Regions from separate parts of the Homo sapiens genome. Here region 1 is linked to region 2. Evidence: fine-mapped expression QTL. A gene starts in region 2. The other region holds a variant in brackets. All regions are shown on one strand. Distances are between the middles of the regions. Region 1 overlaps FSTL3 (follistatin like 3). Region 2 holds the start of PALM (paralemmin).

What was found. PIP is the estimated chance that this variant, and not a neighbour inherited with it, causes the effect.
Region 1: its variant is fine-mapped to the expression of PALM in adrenal gland (GTEx, PIP above 0.99).

The regions. Positions count from the first base shown.
Region 1 is chr19:681,108-686,467 of GRCh38, forward strand. FSTL3 (follistatin like 3) reads left to right here. Exons shown (of 5, transcript NM_005860.3): 4 at 226-453; 5 at 543-2,278. The coding sequence ends at 601. PRSS57 (serine protease 57) reads right to left here. Exons shown (of 5, transcript NM_001308209.2): 5 at 4,439-4,815. The coding sequence ends at 4,609. Among named protein-coding and RNA genes, the nearest start is that of FSTL3, 7.4 kb to the left of the region's middle. RefSeq lists enhancers at 1-375, 376-924 and a silencer at 1-5. The variant C/T (reference allele first, on the strand shown) is at 2,609.
Region 2 is chr19:706,557-711,916 of GRCh38, forward strand. PALM (paralemmin) reads left to right here and starts at 2,379. Exons shown (of 9, transcript NM_002579.3): 1 at 2,379-2,595. The coding sequence starts at 2,591. RefSeq lists an enhancer at 1,376-1,936 and a silencer at 1,389-1,625.

The sequences.
Region 1 (5,360 bases), 25 kb before region 2:
TCACGAAAGAGGTGTGGCTCCTGGGTACAATGGGAAGGGCAGGGCTTGTGGGTGGAGCCTGAGGGGTGGAATGGAGAGGGGGGCTCACGGGGGGCGGGGGGGTGCTTGTGTCTCCTACCAGAGGGTTTTCGCATCTTGGGGGTTAAGGGTGGGTCTTGGGGCCAAGAGCCCTGCGGGGTTCTCAGCGAGATGTCCCCTGAACTTCCCCTGGCACCCGGCCTGCAGAGTCCTGTGAGCACGTGGTGTGCCCGCGGCCACAGTCGTGCGTCGTGGACCAGACGGGCAGCGCCCACTGCGTGGTGTGTCGAGCGGCGCCCTGCCCTGTGCCCTCCAGCCCCGGCCAGGAGCTTTGCGGCAACAACAACGTCACCTACATCTCCTCGTGCCACATGCGCCAGGCCACCTGCTTCCTGGGCCGCTCCATCGGCGTGCGCCACGCGGGCAGCTGCGCAGGTGCAGACGCAGGGCGGGGGCACAGGCCTGTCCTGGGGGCCGGAGAACCCCCTGCCCTGCGCCCTCAATGCTCTTATCGACCCTTGCAGGCACCCCTGAGGAGCCGCCAGGTGGTGAGTCTGCAGAAGAGGAAGAGAACTTCGTGTGAGCCTGCAGGACAGGCCTGGGCCTGGTGCCCGAGGCCCCCCATCATCCCCTGTTATTTATTGCCACAGCAGAGTCTAATTTATATGCCACGGACACTCCTTAGAGCCCGGATTCGGACCACTTGGGGATCCCAGAACCTCCCTGACGATATCCTGGAAGGACTGAGGAAGGGAGGCCTGGGGGCCGGCTGGTGGGTGGGATAGACCTGCGTTCCGGACACTGAGCGCCTGATTTAGGGCCCTTCTCTAGGATGCCCCAGCCCCTACCCTAAGACCTATTGCCGGGGAGGATTCCACACTTCCGCTCCTTTGGGGATAAACCTATTAATTATTGCTACTATCAAGAGGGCTGGGCATTCTCTGCTGGTAATTCCTGAAGAGGCATGACTGCTTTTCTCAGCCCCAAGCCTCTAGTCTGGGTGTGTACGGAGGGTCTAGCCTGGGTGTGTACGGAGGGTCTAGCCTGGGTGAGTACGGAGGGTCTAGCCTGGGTGAGTACGGAGGGTCTAGCCTGGGTGAGTACGGAGGGTCTAGCCTGGGTGTGTATGGAGGATCTAGCCTGGGTGAGTATGGAGGGTCTAGCCTGGGTGAGTATGGAGGGTCTAGCCTGGGTGTGTATGGAGGGTCTAGCCTGGGTGAGTATGGAGGGTCTAGCCTGGGTGTGTATGGAGGGTCTAGCCTGGGTGAGTATGGAGGGTCTAGCCTGGGTGTGTACGGAGGGTCTAGTCTGAGTGCGTGTGGGGACCTCAGAACACTGTGACCTTAGCCCAGCAAGCCAGGCCCTTCATGAAGGCCAAGAAGGCTGCCACCATTCCCTGCCAGCCCAAGAACTCCAGCTTCCCCACTGCCTCTGTGTGCCCCTTTGCGTCCTGTGAAGGCCATTGAGAAATGCCCAGTGTGCCCCCTGGGAAAGGGCACGGCCTGTGCTCCTGACACGGGCTGTGCTTGGCCACAGAACCACCCAGCGTCTCCCCTGCTGCTGTCCACGTCAGTTCATGAGGCAACGTCGCGTGGTCTCAGACGTGGAGCAGCCAGCGGCAGCTCAGAGCAGGGCACTGTGTCCGGCGGAGCCAAGTCCACTCTGGGGGAGCTCTGGCGGGGACCACGGGCCACTGCTCACCCACTGGCCCCGAGGGGGGTGTAGACGCCAAGACTCACGCATGTGTGACATCCGGAGTCCTGGAGCCGGGTGTCCCAGTGGCACCACTAGGTGCCTGCTGCCTCCACAGTGGGGTTCACACCCAGGGCTCCTTGGTCCCCCACAACCTGCCCCGGCCAGGCCTGCAGACCCAGACTCCAGCCAGACCTGCCTCACCCACCAATGCAGCCGGGGCTGGCGACACCAGCCAGGTGCTGGTCTTGGGCCAGTTCTCCCACGACGGCTCACCCTCCCCTCCATCTGCGTTGATGCTCAGAATCGCCTACCTGTGCCTGCGTGTAAACCACAGCCTCAGACCAGCTATGGGGAGAGGACAACACGGAGGATATCCAGCTTCCCCGGTCTGGGGTGAGGAATGTGGGGAGCTTGGGCATCCTCCTCCAGCCTCCTCCAGCCCCCAGGCAGTGCCTTACCTGTGGTGCCCAGAAAAGTGCCCCTAGGTTGGTGGGTCTACAGGAGCCTCAGCCAGGCAGCCCACCCCACCCTGGGGCCCTGCCTCACCAAGGAAATAAAGACTCAAGCCATTTTGGGGTGTCCAGGCCTCAGTTTGTCTCCTCTCTCAAGGCTTCAGGCCGCCCCCACGGCTGTGGGATGGGCAGCCTGGGGCCTGGGGTGCCGCATGGGTGCTCTGGAGGCACGGGAAGAGAGACCCAGCATTAGTCCTTGGGCAGCCTCTGGCCGCCTCTGGGCCTCAGTGCCTCTCCAGGCAGTGGACAAGCCCGGGAGGGGCTGAGGCAGAGCGGGAGGGGAGGGAGAGAAAGGAGGTCTTTTGGGAGGGCACACAGGATAGACAAGATGGCTTAGGGCAGCCCTAAGACACCAGCTGGCTTGGGACCCAGAAATGGAGGCC[C/T]GGTCTTGAATGACTTGGGTGTAACGATAGCAGTAATAAAAATAACAGGATTAGGGCCCGGGTGGGGTAGCTCACCCCTATAATCTCGGCGCTTTGGGAGGCCAAGGCGGGCGGGTCACTTGAGGCCAGGAGTTCCAGACCAGCCTGGGCAACATAGTGAGACCCTCATCTCTACAAAAAAAAAAAAAAAAAAAAAAAAGACCCAGGCATGGTGGCATGCTCCTGTGGTCCCAGCTACTCAGGAGGCGGAGGTGGGAAGATGGCTTGAGCCCAGGATGTCAAGGCTGCAGTGAGCTGTGTTGGCACCACTGCACTCCAGCCTGGGTGACAGAGTGAGACTGTTTCTAAAATAATAATAATAGCATAATTGGCCGGGCGTGGTGGTTCATGCCTGTAATCCCAGCACTTTGGGAGGCCGAGGCAGGTGAATCATGAGGTCAGGAGTTCGAGACCGACCTGGCCAACATGGTGAAACTCCAATCTCGGTGAGCCGAGATCGTGCCACTAAACTCCAGCCTGGGGGACAGAGCAAGACCCCATCTCAAAAAAAAAAAAAAAAAAATTAGCCAGGTGTGGTGTCATGCACCTGTAGTCCCAGCTACTTGGGAGGGTGAGGCAGGAGAATCGCTTGAACCTGGGAGGCAGAGGTTGCAGTGAGCCGAGATCGCACCACTGGACTCCAGCCTGGGTGACGGAGTGAGACTCTGTCTCAAAATAATAATAATAATAATAATAATAACAACAACAACAACAAAAAGGCCCAGCGCGGTGGCTCACCCGCGCCTGTAATCCCAGCACTTTAGGAGGCCAAGGCTAGCGGATCACGAGGTCAAGAGATCGAGACCATCCTGGCCAACATGGTGAAACCCCATCTCTACTAAAAATACAAAAAATTAGCCGGGTGTGGTGGTACATGCCTGTAGTCCCAGCTAGTTGGGAGGCTGAGGCAGGAGAATGGCTTGAACCCAGGGGCAGAGGTTGCAATGAGCCGAGATTGCGCCACTGCACTCCAGCCTGGTGACAGAGTGAGACGTCATCTTAAAAAAATAATAGGCCGGGCGCGGTGGCTCACGCCTGTAATCCCAGCACTCTGGGAGGCCGAGGTGGGTGGATCACGAGATCAGGAGATCGAGACCATCCTGGCTGACACGGTGAAACCCCGTTTCTACTAAAAATACAAAGAATTAGCCGGGTGTGGTGGCGGGCGCCTGTAGTCCCAGCTACTTGGGAGGCTGAAGCGGGAGAATGGTGTGAACCCGGGAGGCGGAACTTGCAGTGAGCCGAGATCGCACCACTGCACTCCAGCCTGGGGGACAGAGCGAGACTCCATCCAAAATAAAAATAAGTAAAGATAAAAAAATAAAATAATAATAAAGAAAATAAAATCTAAAAATAAAAAAATAATAACACAATAACAAACTGTGACAATAACATCACCTGGGACTTGCTGTGCACCCCGCGCTATTCTCTGGTTTTCAGAGGATGACCACGAGGCTTGATGTGTGGCCAGACCCTCTTGGGACTCCTCGGCGCGGCCGGTGCAAGCCCGCCCTGGTGTCCAGCAGCCCCCACGCCCTGCACAGGGAGCTCAGGGCTTCCTGGCCTCCGTTTCCCAGCGGACTCGCCTGCGGTGTGGTTAGGCGGCTGGAGGGAGGTGGAGGAACGGCATTCCAGGTGGGAGGCTGCAGGAGTGTGGGTTGCAGGGGCGCAGGGGTAGACCCAGAGGGGTTCACGGTGGGGGGCATGGGAAGGTGGAAAGGGGCTGCGGACCGAGCCGCGACACGAATGCCGGTGGACCCTGCAGCTGACCGCCCACGGGTGAGGCTGGAAGTCAGTTAACATTTTACTGGGTTTGCTTCTGCCCTTTGCATGTGGAATGGGTGTGCCCCACCGCTGCCCGTCCCACCCCAACCCTGAACATCAGGCTTCCCGTGGGGCCCAGCCACGGAACATTCCAGGCCTGGAGCGGCCATCTCATTTGCATGCCGCAAGGTTGTGGCTCAGGCGGCTTCTCCTGGGGGCCTGGTGGTCCCAGGCAGGGGGCCGGGCTGGGGACTGCTCCGCCGAACCACGTCCCAGATCCAGGCCACAAAGGCGGACACCTGCGTGTACACGTCGGGGGTCTTGGGGTCGCCGCACCAGAGGCCCGAGAAGGAAACGAGGCCGTGAGCCCGGTTCCTGCACACCAGGGGCCCTCCGGAGTCGGCCTGGAGTGAAAGGAGAGGTGAGGTCAGGGCCTCTGGGAGCTGCTGCAGGCACATCTCACCACGGCCCTCCCTGCCTCAGAACCCTCTGTGGCTCCCTACTGCTCTCCAAGGAAAAAGTAAATTCATTTCTCCCCTCCAGGCCCTGAGGACCCAGCCCCCACCCACTTCTCTGCCCTCCCCGCTGAGCCTCCTCAGTGCTCCACGGCCTTTGTATAGCCTGGAGACCTGTTCCTGCCCTGCGCTGGATGCTGCCTGTGTGAACATTCGAGTCTGCAGTGTTTTGGGCAGTGCACAACCTACACAGCTGTACGCGGCAGCCCTCTACTAACAGGTCTCTCTGCCTTGCGTGTGTTTCCTCAGATCTTCTAAGGATTCCTTCAAGTCTCAGCTCAAAGGTGCTCTCCTTGGAGAGGGCTCCCCGTATACTCACCCTAAAATCCCTCATCCTACCCTCCTGCCATCTAGAATCCGCTCTGATACCATCAACTGGATACTAATAGTGTAGCAGTTTTACAGATGGAGAAAAAGAGGCCCAGAGAAATCAA
Region 2 (5,360 bases):
CTTCAGTCTCCTGAAGTGTTGGGATTACATGTAACAGTCACTTCATTCACCCTGAATCATTTATGTAGGGGACAAAAATCACCGTCTCTCCAAGGACAGAACTTCTTTTTTGTTTTGTTTTGTTTTGTTTTGTTGAGATGGAGTCTTGTTCTGTCACCCAGGCTGGAGTGCAGTGGCGCGATCTCTGCTCACTGCAACTTCTGCCTCCCGGGTTCCAGCCATTCTCCTGCCTCAGCCTCCCCAGTAGCTGGGATTACAGGCGCGCACCACCATGCCCAGCTAAGTTTTGTATTTTTAGTAGAGAAGGAGTTTCACTGGCCGAGCGTGGTGGCTCACACCTGTAATCCCAGCTACTAGGGAGGCTGAGGCAGGAGAATTGCTTGAACCTGGTAGACGGAGGTTGCAGTGAGCCGAGATCGCGCCATTGCACTCCAGCCTGGGCAACAAGAGCGAAACTCCGTCCACCCCAGCCAAAAAAAGAAGTGGTTTTGCCATGTTGGCCAGGCTGGTCTCTAACTTTTGACCTCATGATCCACCAGCCTCAGCCTCCCAAAGTGCTGGGATTACAGGCGTGAGCCACCGCGCCCGGCCTGGTCTCAAACTTTTGACCTCGTGATCCACCAGCCTCAGCCTCCCAAAGTGCTGGGATTATAGGCGTGAGCCACGGCGCCTGGCCGCAAAAATGGAACTTCTGCATCACAGGTGACTAACGGTGCCAGGCACACAGTAGGTGTTCAATAAATCACTTTGGACTAAAAGAACACAGAGGCCAAGGGGAAGTGAAGAAACGACTCACAGGTCAGTTTTATTGGGTGCCTAGTGCAGGGGTCAGTACACTACGGCCCTCGGATCAGCTCTGGCCCTCTGCCTGTTTTTGTAAATAAAGTTTTATTGGGTGCCTAGTGCAGGGGTCAGTACACTACGGCCCTGGGATAAGCTCTGGCCCACTGCCTGTTTTTGTAAATAAAGTTTTATGGGCACAGAGCCATGCCCATGGTTTTACATATTGTCTCTGGCTACTTTCACTCTGCGATGGCAGAGCAGAGTCATTGCCGCAGAGACTGTGGCCTGCAATGCTGAAAATATTTACTCTCTGGCCCTTTACAGAAAAAGTTTGCCAAACCCTGAGCTAGTGTGTGCTGGGCCCTGTGCCAAGCCCTTTGTGTGTGCTCACTCAGTTAACCCTCCCACAGCCTTAAGGGTGGGGGCAGGGGGGTGGGGGGGAATAAGGCTCCGAGAGGTTGAGAAACAGACCCAGGGTCACACAGCTTGGAGATGGGTGAGCTGGGAATCAGACAGACCCGGGACCCCTGATATTCTTTAGGATCTTAGCTTTGTTAACCTTTGCTAATTTATCTTATTGTCTTAAATGCTAAAATGAATACACATTCATTGTAAAAAGGGAGGAATAAAGAAAAGGTGTTGACGGCCTTCTTCAGCCTGGGGTACATCCTGCCGTATCTTTCTCCACAGCTCATCCGGGGCTACTTTCCTTTAAATCTACAGCCATTCAGCAAACATCGGCAGAGGAGAACCGTTTTATAAGAAAACTAAGAAGTTTGGAAGAATCTTTCCTTCCTGCCCACCCTGGACCCCCATGAGTAGGTGTGCTGGGGCTGGTCTGCAGTGTTCTCACGGGAAACCAGGAAGCTGGGCCCAAGGCCTACATGTTGGGGAAGACAGGTCCTGCCTGTCTCCTGCTGTGGCTCCCCAGTGCTCTGAGGACAAAGCCTGAGCTCTCCCTGATTCTCCACCGTCCCTCTCACTCACTCTGGTCGTCTGGTCGCTGGGCCTTTAGTGAGTGTGCCATGGGGGCCCTGGGGCCGATTAAATTCCAGCCCCGGGGACCAGGCTCAGCTCCCAGCCAGGGCACAGACAGATCAGCACCTGCGGTTGTCTCCACCCCAACCCCCGGCCTTTGCAGGCACAGCGCCCTCCACCAGATACTCCGGCAAAGGAGGCCTGGGGACCCTGCGAGCGGGGCCGGGGGTGCAGGGAGCTGTCAGCTCCTCGCAGCGGCCTCCCCAGGACCCCCCTATCCCCTCGCTCGCCCTGAAATGTGTGTCCCTCTCGGCGTCTGGGCTCTCGAGAAAGGCCTTTGCTTGTCTGACTTCGCGAGGGTCCCGGCTCTGGCCCAGGAGCTGGGGAGGGGCGGGACTTGGTGACAGCCGGGTCCCAGCACCGCGCCCAGACCTAGGCCCTTCTCAGGGGTGCCCCGGGGCGGGGCGCGCGGGGCGGGGGGCGGCGGCGGCGCAGCCGGCAGGAGGCGCAGCGCCCGCTCGCAGCGCGGGGAGGTGGGAGGGGAGCGGGGCGGGGAGCGGGGCGGGCGGGAGGGAGAGGGGAGCGCGCCGGAGACGCGCGCGCCCAGCCCACCCCCCGCGCCCGCCGCCGCCCGGACAATAAACAGCAGCTTTGCGCGGGGCGATGCCCGAGCCGGTGCCGCCGCCCCCGCGCCGCGCAGCCCCGGCCGCCAGGCCTTAGCCCGCCCCGGCCCCCGCCAGGCCGCGTCCCCCTCCCCTCCCCTCCCCCGCGCGCCACCCGCGCCCGCCCCCGCCCGGCACCGCGGACCCACCCGGACCTCGGCGGGGAGATGGAGTGAGTAGGCGCGCTCGGGCCGCGGGGCTGGGGGCCCGGAGCTCCGGGAGCCGGGGAGGGGGGAGGCCCCCTCTCTCGCGCCCCATTGGGGGCGTCGCTGCCCCCGCGAGGAGCAGGAGGCGGCGCGGGGCTGCTGGGGCCGCAGCGCAGCCGGGAAGAGACTCGGGCTGGGCCGCGCCTGCCGGGAGGCCTCCCCGCTCCCGGACCCCGGCTGCCCACCCACCGGCGCGTGGGGACCCGGGCAGCGGCGGCTCGGGCCAGTCCAGGACGCGGGGAGGGGGAGGCTCGCGTCTCCGCCCGCGCCCCGCCCGCGTCTCCAGGGCGAGCCTCGGCTCTCGGCCACCTGTGGGTGGCCCCGGGGAGATGGAGCGACCCCTCCCCAGATTGCACCGGTCCGGCCTCGCGCTCACGCACCCTTCCCCCGCCCCAGTCTGAGCGCACGGCTCCTGGCGCCCTGGACGCGCGCGCGGGCCGGTGCCCCCCACCCCCGCCCTTCCCAAGGGCCTCCAGGGGTGTCCTGAGCCCCCCGCCACTGCGCAGGTCCCGAGTTACCGCTGGAGGGAGAGGGGCTGCCCTCGGCTTCCCGGGTCTCTGGGGTGTGTGAGAAGGGAGAGGAACCGGCGTTTTCCAGCGGGGCGCCTGGGTGGGATACCCTCTCGGGGAAGTGTCTCGGAGCTGGGGCTCCACTGGTGTAGCTACAGGAGTGGGCTGGCCCTGGGCTGGGATCCCTGGACCCCCGCATGGCTGCGCCTGTGTGTGTGGGGGGGGGGTGGCCAGTGGAGGCACCGAGCGAGGGCGCGTGGTCATTTCGGACACCGGTCCCCTCCTCCCGGTGCTCGGGTGCCCCTCTGCCCCTCACTCCCACAGGTGGGCACTGCACGGGCAGGGGTCAGGAGGCTCCTCCTGGGGTCACCCACCTGCCCACTTCAGGACAGGGGAGCCAGCTGCCCTGCTGAGGCCCGGGTCCCCACCCCAGCCCGAGGACCGAAGACCGGATCTGGAGGCCGCCTGTGGCCCCCTGCCCTTCCCACTGGGCGTGTTTTCTAAGCCGCCAACTTTCCCCGGGGATTCACCCGTGACCCGCCACGCCCGCGGCTGGGTGGGGGCCGCTGCCTCCCTCCCTCCCTGGGAAAGCGAGACACCCAGTGTCCTCTGCTTTTGAAAACCCAGACAAAGGCCTGACCCCTCTCCCCGTCACCCCGCCCCGGGAGCTCAGCCAGGGGCTCAGGGGAGCCAGGGCCCAGACTTGCCTGCTCCACACCCCCACCCCCCAGCCTTGTTTATCTGCCCTGCTCGCCAGGCCCCGGAGGAGCCTCTGGGCCTCTGACAGCCAGGCCTGGGCAGGGTGTGGCTGTGGGGAGGGGGCTGCCTAGGAGGACGACGGAGATCTCCCTCCCAGAGGAGGGGTGTCAGCGAACACTCCGGGTCGGGCCCATTGTTTCCTTCCTGCCACCCCTTCCTTTCCCACGGGGGATACTGAGGCCCAGAGAGGAGCTGCTGCCCCCCCCCCACCCCCCCTCCATCACACAGCACCTGGGGCCGGGGGGCCTCGGTGCCTCCTGCTCTGCTCCACGGTTTCTCCGTCCTGGGTCAGAGGGTGGCCCACAGGTCCCCCATTGGGTCATCATTGCTTTTGGGGATGCAGACATGGGACAGGCACCCAGTGTTAACCGGCTGCTGTGAGCCGCCATTCGAGGACGACTCTCTCCCCGGTTCCCGGGCTGACAATGGGTGGGGACAGGCCCATCTGGTGCCGCCCGGCCTTGGACACCTGCCCCCTCGTTCTTCTCCCCGGCGGGCTTCAGGCACGAAGGCCCCGTCCGCTAGAACGTGATCGCTTGCCTCCTCCCGTTTCCACAGATTTTCCAGTCGAAGACACGGGAGCTGGCTGTGGTTTGTGGTGGTGCCCGTCTCGCTGGAAAGTTTCACAAATGAATTTAAGAATTTAAAGAATTTTAAATGTCATTCAAGAACAGGTTATTTTTTGTTAATGTGAGGATTTAAGGAGAACTAGCGGGTTGCTAACCACAGGGCCGATGCTGCCAAGGTGAGGAGAACGTCCAGGAAGGAGCTGGGGAGAATCTCTGCTTCGGAGAGAATCTCTGTGCTCTGGGAGGGTTTGTGTGGCCCCTGCGTGACACATGGTCTGGCTGGTAAAATAAAGATATTTTGGCCTGGAGCAGCCATTCTCCAGCACCCACAGCCCTGTCCTGGGTACAGGCAAGGCTCAAACCCCCGGGATAGGGAGGAGAACAGACTTGGGCCTGGACAGATGGTCAAGACCGGCCCAGACTCCTCCCTGCTCGCAGACCTGGAAATTTTCAATAGGAAAGTCTCCGTTGGGTGCTAACTGGGTCCTTAACGCTCCTTCACACTTGCTAATCCCCCTTTTTAATGAGAGGCAGAGCCTGTTAAAAGGCAACAGTACCTAGTGATAATTGAATTTAATAACAAGCTTTTACTTCCGTTGTATCTGTTTCTTCCTCCATGTTTCCGCTGTCTTGTTTGTGGCGGTGGCTTCTGGTTTGCCCAGTGTTGATCACAATATAATGTTTCTTTCTAAAACAAGGCGATTTGATTTACACTGGAGTGGTTTTGAAGGCAAGGAATAGACAGATACTGTCCAGGAGGTGGCGGAACATGGGAAGGTGGTTTCTTTCTTTTTTCCATGTTGCCCAGGCCAGTCTCGAACTCCTGGGCTCAAGCGACTTCCCTGCCTCAGCCTCCCAAGTAGCTGGGACGACAGCATTGCATGGGAAGGTGGT